Linked DNA regions of Homo sapiens: region 2 is linked to region 1. Evidence: fine-mapped expression QTL. A gene starts in region 1. The other region holds a variant in brackets. All regions are shown on one strand. Distances are between the middles of the regions. Region 1 holds the start of MVB12A (multivesicular body subunit 12A). Region 2 has its middle 4.7 kb from the start of CCDC194.

Region 1 (5,401 bases):
ATAGCTTGAACCTGGGAGGCGGGGCTTGCAGTGAGCCGAGATTGCGCCACTGCACTCCAGCCTGGGCAACAGAGCGAGACTCCGTCTCAAAAAAATAAATAAATAAATAAATAAATTTTAAAAAATAAAATAAATAAATTAAATAAAATAAAAAATAAGAGTCCAGACGGTGGCCTTTTGGGGACATTAGGCTCTTTCTTCTTGCTTCCCCTTTAGCTGCTCTATAATCCTTCATTTCCCGATCCTAGTGTACTTTATCCGCCTTTGCCATTTCATCAAATTTGGACTTCTCTTTCACTGACACTGTCTTCCAACTCTCAGAATATTTCTTGGAAAATTCTGCAAAATTGACAGGGACCTCTGGGTTTTTCTTCTTCTTCTTCCTTTTTTTTTTTTTGAGATGGAGTTTCACTCTGTCGCCCAGGCTGGAGTGCAGTGGCACGATCTCCGCTCACTGCAACTTTCTCCTCCCAGGTTCAAGCGATTCTCCTGCCTCAGGCTCCCGAGTAGCTGGGACTATAGGCGCCTGCCACCATGCCCAGATAATTTTTGTATTTTTAGTAGAGACGGGGTTTCACCATGTTGGCCAGGATGGTCTCAATTTATTGACCTCATGATCCGCCTGCCTTGGCCTCCCAAAGTGCTGGGATTACAGGCGTGAGTCACTGTGCCAGGCCGGTTTTTCTTCTTATGTTCTTCTCTGTACATCTGCACAAAAAAACTATAAGCAGACATTTTGCCCTTTGGTTTCTTGGGGTCACCATTAGCCATCCTGACTGTATTGTTTGCTAGTCTGGGCAGCGCAGGACACTTGTTCGCTATTTTTCTAAACTTTTCCCCCAATGGGTGTAAAAAAGCATATTATTATTATTATTATTATTATTATTATTATTGAGACGAGTTTCGCTCTTGTTGCCTAAGCTGGAGTGCAATGGCGCGATCTCAGCTCATTGCAACCTCCACCTCCCGGGTTCCAGTGATTCTCCTGCCTCAGCCCCCTTAGTAGCTGGGATTCCAGACGCGCACCACCACGCCTGGATAGTTTTTTGTACTTTTAGTAGAAACGGGGTTTCACCATGTTAGGCTGGTCTCAAACTCCTGACCTCAGATGATCCGCCCGCCTCGGCCTCCCAAAGTGCTGGGATTACAGGTGTGAACCACTGTGCCCGGCTTAAAAGCATATTATTATAGTAAATACTTTTTTTCCCTTTCTTTCTTTCATTTTAAACACTGGGGTCTCCTTATGTTGTCCAGGCTAGATTCAAACTCCTGGACTCAAGCGATCCTCCCACCTCAGCCTCCCTGTTACCCTGTTGCCATGACAGCCCTGATAAAATAACTGGGAAAGTTCTCTTTCTTATTGTAAGTCCAAAAAAAAAAAAAAAAAAGGCACAGCTGCTTAAAGATTGCAGACAGCCAGGGATGTCCCCAGACCTTCTTGACCCCTGACCAGATACCAGAGGAAGATAAGATCCCTAAATCACCACAAACTGGAACAGACGACCTCTAGTCGACTTTAGATCATCAATATATAATTATAATGCTAAAATTCCTTCTCTTAAAAGAAAATCTCCATTTTGTGTAGATGGGTTGTATGAAGACAACCCAGGAATTGAGGCTCATGAATTGAGCCTGCGTGTCTGGAGTCCCACCCTGCACATGCTAGCATTCCTCTCCCTTCCTGTACCCAGGGGAAGAAACAATAAAACGTTATGCTTTTTACTGTTGAGGGAGAAGGGGCAGTTAGAGTGAGAGCCTCTCCTTCTCCATTCCTGGCCAGTGAATAAAACCTGATTGCCTTTTCCGATTGGATGTTCCTTCTTTGCCACCTACACAAAGTGGGGAGGTAACTCGGTTTGCTGGTGGCATCCTCAGTAGCTGGGACTACAGGCAATAAATTCTTTTATACGTCGCTTTTTAAACGTATTGTGCCTGTGAACAAATCTTCAAGTTATACCCAAGATTTCAAAGCTCATGATGGTCCATAGTACTCGCTCTTTAAATCAATAGCTGCGTATCCCACAGATGATTTCCTTTGGGATGATTTCCCAGAACTGGAATTGCAGATTCTTCACAATGCATTTTTAGTAGAGAAGGGGTTTCACCACGTTGGCCAGGAGGGTCTCGATCTCTTGACCTCATGATCCGCCCGCCTCCGCCTCCCAAAGTGCCGGGATTACAGGCGTCAGCCACTGCGCGCGGCCACAAAGCTCCCAACTTTTCCGTTAAGCACCGAGCTTTTTTCTAGACTAGCAGCTGAGGCCGGAAGGAATTCTGGGGAACGTAGTGCAGACTTGCAGAGAACGAGTCTCTTGGTCCTGTGCCGTAGCATTTCCGGCGGAAGTTGCTGGGCGCGGAAAGCCGGCAAGACCTTTTTTTCCGCCATCATCGCTCACGCGCGCAACCCTGGCGACGCGTGGTGGCGAGGCTCCGCCTCCCCACGCCATTGGCCAGCAGCTCCTCGGGCACGCGTATACTGCGCTTCCGGGCAATCTCCGCCCCCCCCCCCCGCATGGCCTTCTGGGAGTTGTAGTTCGGTCGCGAGCGCTGCCGTCGGGAGGCGCTCCGAGGTTCGAGGCTGTGCCCCGCGACCCCGCCTTCGGCGCTCGGCTCGCAGGATGGATCCCGTACCCGGGACAGACTCGGCGCCGCTGGCTGGCCTGGCCTGGTCGTCGGCCTCTGCACCCCCGCCGCGGGGGTTCAGCGCGGTGAGCGGCGTCGAGGGGCGGGGGTCGAATGGGGGAGGCAGTCGCTGTGGGGTGGGAGTCCGGCGCTGACCCGCGTCCTCCCGGTAGATCTCCTGCACCGTCGAGGGGGCACCCGCCAGCTTTGGCAAGAGCTTCGCGCAGAAATCTGGCTACTTCCTGTGCCTTAGTTCTCTGGGCAGCCTAGAGGTAAGAGGTGCCCACCTTCGGAACCACCAGGGTCTGCCCACCTCCCCTGCCCATTCACGGTGCCCTATGCCAGGTGCGCTGTCCCCGCTGCTAGCCACCCTCGCCGTGTCCCCCTTCCACCCCCAGAACCCGCAGGAGAACGTGGTGGCCGATATCCAGATCGTGGTGGACAAGAGCCCCCTGCCGCTGGGCTTCTCCCCCGTCTGCGACCCCATGGATTCCAGTAAGGGCTGCTTCGGAGGCGAGAGTTGTCCGGGTCCCTTGCAGGGAGGAGCGGGGGAGGAGGGACGACGGGCGCGCGGTATCTGAGCCTCGGCTGCCCCCTGGCACACGGGGTGATGACAGGGTTGGCTGAGGACTCAGAGCCCTGCCCTAGGGTGGACCGACATCCCCTGTCCTGATTCAAAATGTGTGATATGATTGGCACAGCCTGCATCCTCGAGTTAAGTGTTCAGTCCACGCCACCTGTTTCACTACTGTTGTGCTACTTGTGTCTTTTTACACCATAGCCAAGCAAAACCACTGCGCAGTTTTCTTTTTCATTTCCAGGCTTTGCACACGCCGCTTCCTCTGCCTGGGGCACTTTTTCTCTCCTTTTTGTAGCTCATTCTCCGTCCTCCGTCAGATGTCACCTTCACCCTTCCCTACCCCTCCTCTTCTGGGCCCACAACCCTAGTGCAGCCCTCCCAGCCCCACCTGAACTTTCCCACCCTTTCTTGTCATTTTTATTTGACTCAGGCTATATTCATTCATACTAGAGTTGGCAAACCTTTTTTTTTTTTTTTTTCTTCAGACGGAGTTTCGCTCTTGTTGCCCAGGCTGGAGTGCAATGGCGCGATCTCAGCTCACCACAACCTCCGACTCCCGGGTTCAAGCGATTCTCCTGCCTCATCCTCCAGAGTAGCTGGGATTACAGGCATGCGCCACCACGCCTGGCTAATTTTGTATTTTTAGTAGAGACGGGGTTTCTCCATGTTGGTCAGGCTGGTTTCGAACTCGTGACCTCAGGTGATCCACCTGCCTGGGCCTCCCAAAGTGCTGGGATTACAGGCGTGAGCCACCGCACCCGGCCAAACTTTTTTTCTTTATTTTTTCTTAGAGTTGGCAAACTTTTATGTAAAGGGCCTTATAGTAAATATTTTAGGCTTTACAGGGCAGATGATGTGTTTTGCATATTCAATTTTTTTACAATTCCTTAAAAATGTAAAAATCACTCTTAACACATCAGCTGTATGAAACCAGGCCTTAGGCTTGGTGTGGTGGTTCACACCTGTAATCCCAGCACTTTGGGAGCCTGAGGCGGGCAGATCACCTGAGGTCAGGAGTTCCAGACCAGCCTGGCCAACATGGTGAAACCCTGTCTCTACTAAAAATACAAAATTAGCTGGGCATGGTGGTGGGCGCCTGTAGTCCCAGCTACTTGGGAGGCTGAGGCAAGAGAATTGTTTGAACCTGGGAGGCGGAGGTTGGAGTGAGCTGAGATTGCGCCATTGCACTCCAGCCTGGGCGACAGAGTGAGACTCTGTCTCAAAAAGAAAAGAAAAGAAAACAGACCTTGAGCCAGATTTGGCTCATGGGTGCTAGTTGTCCAACCTCTATAGGATTAGAGGGCTCATGGAAAGTAAGTTTTGAGGGCCACGATGGGCACCCAGCTCTGTCCGATTCCACAGCTAGCCACCCCATGAATGCAGCTTCATATCACCAAAGATCAGCCTACTCCAGCGGTTCCTAAAGGCTGCATGGAATCCCCTCCTTCATCTATACCATTCATGATTTAACCACTCCTCCCACCCCCATCCCCAATGTTGTCCATGTGGCTGCCTTAAACAGCACCCTGGCGAGCCTCATCCTAGAGTCATCTTTGGGCCTTCCCACCCCTGCCTGGCTTCCCTCTCTCACTCCCCTACCCCCCACTCCCAGAGGCCTCTGTGTCCAAGAAGAAACGCATGTGTGTGAAGCTGTTGCCCCTGGGAGCCACGGACACGGCTGTGTTTGATGTCCGGCTGAGTGGGAAGACCAAGACAGTGCCTGGATACCTTCGAATAGGGTAGGGCCACCCCCCAGTGTCTAGCCACCTTCCCTGCCCTCCCAACTCATGATCTCACCAATCTGACCCTCAAGGACACCCCTGAGGTCTCCTGTTCCTTCTTCTACCTTCTGAGCCTCAGATTCTGCATGTTAAAACCGGGACATATATATCATCTTGTAGGACTGTCATTAGGAGTCAGTGACTTGGTGTCTAAAGTAGACATAACAGGACTGGGCGCGGTGGCTCACGCCTGTAATCCCAGCACTTTGGGAGGCTGAGGCGGGCCGATCACAAGGTCAGGAGATCGAGACCATCCTGACTAACATGTTGAAACCCCATCTCTACTGAAAATACAAAAAATTAGCCGGGTATGGTGGCACACGCCTGTAGTCCCAGCTACTTGGGAGGCTGAGGCAGGAAAATCACTTGAACCTGGAAGGCGGAGGTTGCAGTGAGTTGAGATCGCGCCACTGCACTC
Region 2 (5,218 bases), 21 kb before region 1:
CACTGCACTCCAGCCTGGGCAACAGAGTGAGACCATGTCTCAAAAAACAAAAAAAAGTCTATTCAGGTATGTTGATAGACTTTAGTCTTTCTGCCTGTGATATGAGTTCAGTTAATGAAAACTCAAAGAATCAGAAGTAATTGTTTTCTTTTTTGGTGGGTCCAGAATTTAGGCGTGTAAAAAATAAAATAAAATTTTAGGACCTTCCAGATTTATTATGTCAAGGGGTAATAGTTAAGCCCTGGAAACTGAATCAACCTTTCTTTCTTTTCTTGTATTCATTCATTCATTCTTTCTTTCTTTCTTTCTTTTTTTTTTTTTTTTTTGAGATGGAGTCTTGCTCTGTCGCCCAGGCTGGAATGCAATGTTGGCTCACTGCAACCTCTGCCTCCTGGGTTCAAGCAATTCTCCTGCCTCAGCCTCCTGAGTAGCTGGGATTGCAGGCACCTGCCACCACTCCTAGCTAATTTTTTTTTTTTTTGAGATGGCGTCTTGCTCTGTTGCCAAGGCTGGAGTGCAATGTCACGATCTCAGCCCACTGCAACCTCTGCCTTCCAGGTTCAAGAGATTCTCCTGCCTCAGCCTCCCAAGTAGCTGGGATTACAGGCACCTGCCAACACACCTAGCTAACTTTTATATTTTTAGTAGAGATGGGATTTCACTATGTTGGCCAGGCTGTCTCGAACTCATGGCCCCAAGTGATCTGCCCACCTCGGCCTCCCAAAGTGCTGGGATTACAGGGGTGAGCCACCACGCCTGGCCTCTTTATTTTTTCTTTTCTTTTTTTTTTGAGACCAGGTCTCACTCTGTCACCCAGGCTGGAGTACAGTGGTGCCATCACGGCTCACTGCAGCCTTGACCTCCTGGGCTCAAGCGATGCCCCCACCTGGGCCTCCAGCGATGCCCCAACTTGGGCCTCCCTGAATGCTGGGATTACCACCACTGTGAGCACCGAGCCACCCCATTCCCAACCCCTGGCCTTTCTTGTGTGGAGATATCCCACATTAACTAGACTTCCTAGTCTTCATTCAAGCATAGACTAAATGTTGTTGGAGATAGAGACCCTTGTGACTGTCACCTCTTTACAACAGAATGTGTAAGCAACCCCCTTAGGACATAGTCAATAGTAGCCAATCTAATCTCCTATCTGTATTCTAGCCTTTGCATGGGAAATGTATTTCTGTTCAGCACCTCTGTTTGTGGCTTTATAAAGGATCCAGGCCAGGCGAGCTGGCTCATGCCTGTAATCCCAGCACTTTGGGAGGCCGAGGCGGGCGAATCACGAGGCCAGGAGTTCGAGGCCAGCCTGACCCACATGTCGAAACCCTGTCTCTACCAAAAATACAAAAATTAGCCGGGCGTGATGGCGGGCACCTGTAATCCCAGCTACTCGGGAGACTGAGACGGAGAATCGCTTGAACCCGGGAGGCAGAGGTTGCAGCGAGTCGAGATCATGCCATTGCACTCCAGCCTGGGTGACAAGAGCAAGACTCCATCTCAAACAAACAAACAAACAAACAATCCACACTTTTCCCTGAATGAGAGGCACTCATCCTCATTCTTTGGTGTCCCTGTGGCCCTGGATAGACTCTGCCCTCACACTTTGCCCTGGAAAAAACTCTTTTAACCAGGCTTGGCATGGTGGCTCACATCTGTAACCCAAGCACTTTGGGAGACTGAGGTGGGAGGATCACTTGAGCCCAGGAGTTTGAGATCAGCCTGGGCAAAATGGTGAGACCCCATCTCTACAAAATATAAAAAAAATTAGGGCCGGGCATGGTGGCTCATGCCTGTAATCCCAGAACTTTGGGAGGCCGAGGCAGGTGGATCACCTGAGGTCAGGAGTTTGTGACCAGCCTGGCCAACGGGTGAAACCCCATCTTAACTAAAAATACAAAAATTGGCCAGCGCAATGGCTCATGCCTGTAATCCCAGCACTTTGGGAGGCCAAGGAGGGTGGATCACGACATCAAGAGTTTGAGACCAGCCTG[G/A]CAAACATGGTGAAACCCCATCTCTACTAAAAATACAAAAATTAGCTGTGTGTGGTGGCGGGTATCTGTAGTCCCAGCTACTCGGGAGGCTGAGCTGAGATCGTGCCACTGCACACCAGCCTGGGCGACAAAGCGAGACTCTGTCTCAAAAAGAAAAAAAAAATTTAGCCAGGCATGGTGGTGGGTATCTGTAATCCCAGCTACTCGGGAGGCTGAGGCAAGAGAATTGCTTGAACCCAAGAAGGGGAGGTTGCAGTGAGCCGAGATCATGCCATTGCACTCTAACCTGGGTGACAAGAGTGAAACTCTGTCTAAAAAAAAAAAAAAAGAAAAAGAAATGAGCTGTGTCTGGACGTGTGGACGTGGCTCACTCACGCTTGTAATCCTGGCACTTTGGGAGGCCAAGGCAGGAGGATTACTTAAGGCCAAGCATTCAAGATCAACCTGGCCAACATAGTGAGATCCTGTCTTTATTATTTAAAAAAAAAAAAAATTTGCTGGGCATGGTGGTGCATACCTGTGGTCCCAGCTACTCAAGAGGCTGAGGTGTGAGGATTGCTGGAGCCCAGGGGATTGAGGCTGCAGTGATCCAAGGTCGCACCACTGCACTTAAGCCTGGGTGACAGAGAGAGGCCCTGTCTCAAAAAAAAAAAAAGAAAGAAATCAGAGCTCAGAGAGGTCGAGTCCCAGAGCAGGGACACTCAGCAGTGGCTGGTCACTGCCAAATTCCCACTGGGGACTGCAGAACCCCACAGCCGTCAGCTTCTCAACCCCTGGGTGGGTCACAGCCTTGGAGTCAGGTCTCTCAGGAAAAGGACAAAATAGGGAGGGAAGATGGGACATTTTAGGAAGTAGGGAAATTTACACCCAGGCCATTGTGTGGGGGGATTGGGAGTTGAATCCACAATATTGGGCTAATCTTATCAGCAAAATACAGCCCAGGCAGGATGGGGGTGGGGGTTGTGGGGGGAGAGTGGGGGAGGGAGTGTGAGTAGGGGTGGGGGTGGGTGGAGCAGCAGCATAGTCTGGGGACCTTTCCATGGCCCAAGTCGGGAGTGGTGAGTGGAGGAGGTCACGTGGGGAGCGTTTGTTTCCTGGGCAAAAGGAAATCCACAGAATGTGGAGGGTTAATTGCCCAACGAGCTTTGAAACCCTGAACAAGGCCAGGCATGGTGGCTCACGCCTGTAATCCCAGCACTTTGGGAGGCTGAGGCGGGCGGATCACGAGGTCAGGAGATCAAGACCATCCTGGCTAACACGGTGACACCCCGTCTCTACTAAAAATACAAAAAAAATTAGCCCAGCGTGGTGGTGGGCGCCTGTAGTCCCAGCTACTTGGGAGGCTGAGGCAGGAGAATCACTTGAATCCAGGAGGTGGAGGTTGCAATGAGCTGAGATCGCACCATTGCACTCCAGCCTGGGCAACAGAGCAAGACTCCATCTCAAAAAACAAACAAACCAACCACAAAAAAAACAAAAACCCCTGAAAAAGTCCAGTAATTACCCTAGGCCTCACCGGGGCTGTTGGTGAGGATGAAATAGCTTAGTAGTTGCAAAGCGGCTTTGGCTTTTTTGCAAGCCAGGGCCACAGAAGTGAAGGCCCACCCTGCTCCCGGGGACACTTAGCAACATATAGAGACTTTTTTTTTCTTTTGAGACAGAGTCTGGCTCTGTTGCCCAGGCTGGAGTTGCATCATCTTGGCTCACTGCAGCCTTGACATCCCAGGCTCAAGCGATCCTCCTGCCTCAGCCTCCCAAGTAGCTGCGACTACAGGCGTGTGCCACCATGCCCAGCTAATTATTAAATTTTTTGTAGAGATGGAGGTCTCCCTATGTTGCCCAGGCTGGTCTTGACCTCCTGGGCTGAAGCAATCCTCCCCCTTCGACCTCCCAAAGTGCTGGGATTACAGGCATGAGCCACCATGCCCAGCCTGGAAACATTTTTAATTGTCACAACTTGGGAGGGTGTTACTTGCATTTATGGGTGGGGGCCAGGGATGCCGTTTAATATCCTACAATGCAGCTGGGCGCCGTGTCTCATGTCTGTAATTCCAGCACTTTGGGAGGCCGAGGCGGGTGGATTTCTTCAGGTCAGGAGTTCAAGACCAGCCTGAACAACATGGTGAAACACCGTTTCTACTAAAAATACAAAAATTAGCCGGACATGATGGCGGGTGCCTGTAATCCCAGCTACTCGGGAGGCTGAGGCAGGATAATCACTTGAACCCGGGAGACGGAGTTTGCAGTGAGCTGAAATCGCACCACTGCACTCCAGCCTGGGAGACAGAGTGAGACTCCATCTCAAAAAAACAAACAAAAAAAACCCAAAACAAAAAACAAAATCCTACAATGCACAGGATGGTCCCCACCCAGAGAACCATCCAGCCCAAACCACCAATGCTGCTGAGGCTGAGACCCTGCCCTAGACCTTGGGAGTGAGGAACGGGTGCTCCAGGCAGCAGGCAGAGCTTGGGCAAAGGCCTTGAGGCAAAAAGGAACTTGGGATCAGTAAAGGTGGAGGTGGTGAGCAAGGGGAAGTGAGGGGGCAAGAGGGCCAGGGGGTCTGTGGCAGGGGAGGTATTTGGGGACCCTTCCCTGGGACAGCAGTAGGAACCATGGAAGTGGAGGCCTGGTTTTATTTATTTATTTATTTTTGAGACAGACTCTTGCTCTGTCGCCCAGGCTAGAGTGCAGTAGCGTGATCTCAGCTCACTGCAACCTCCACCTCCTGGGTTCAAGCGATTTTCCTGCCTCAGCCTCCTGTGTAGCTGGGACTATAGGCACGACCCACCACCCCCCGCTAATTTTTTTTATTTTGAGACAGAGTCTCGCTCTATTGCCCAGGCAGGAGTGCAGTGGCGGGATCTCGGCTCACTGCAACATCCGCCTCTCGGGTTCAAGCGATTCTCGTGCCTCAGCCTCCTGAGTAACTGGGACTACAGGTGCATGCCACCACGCCAGGCTAATTTTTTGTATTTTTAGTAGAGACAGGGTTTCACCGTGTTCGCCAGGATGGTCTGGATCTCTTGACCTTGTGATCCAACAACCTTGGCCTCCCAAAGTGCTGGGATTACAGGCATGAACCACCACGCCCAGCCATTTTTTTGTATTTTTAGTAGAGATGGGGTTCACCATGTTGGCCAGGTTGGTCTTGAACTGAGCTCAAGTGATCCACCTGCCTCGGCCTCCCAAAGTTCTGGGATTACAGGCGTGAGCCACTGTGCCTG

The links.
Region 2: its variant is fine-mapped to the expression of MVB12A in whole blood (INTERVAL, PIP above 0.99).

The regions. Positions count from the first base shown.
Region 1 is chr19:17,417,518-17,422,918 of GRCh38, forward strand. It overlaps MVB12A (multivesicular body subunit 12A), which reads left to right and starts at 2,530. Exons shown (of 9, transcript NM_138401.4): 1 at 2,530-2,708; 2 at 2,796-2,894; 3 at 3,021-3,117; 4 at 4,815-4,941. The coding sequence starts at 2,619. It also overlaps the pseudogene HMGB3P29. RefSeq lists an enhancer at 2,067-2,116 and silencers at 2,277-2,486, 2,627-2,856.
Region 2 is chr19:17,396,332-17,401,549 of GRCh38, forward strand. No RefSeq gene overlaps it. Among named protein-coding and RNA genes, the nearest start is that of CCDC194, 4.7 kb to the left of the region's middle. RefSeq lists a cis regulatory region at 2,645-3,209. The variant G/A (reference allele first, on the strand shown) is at 1,992.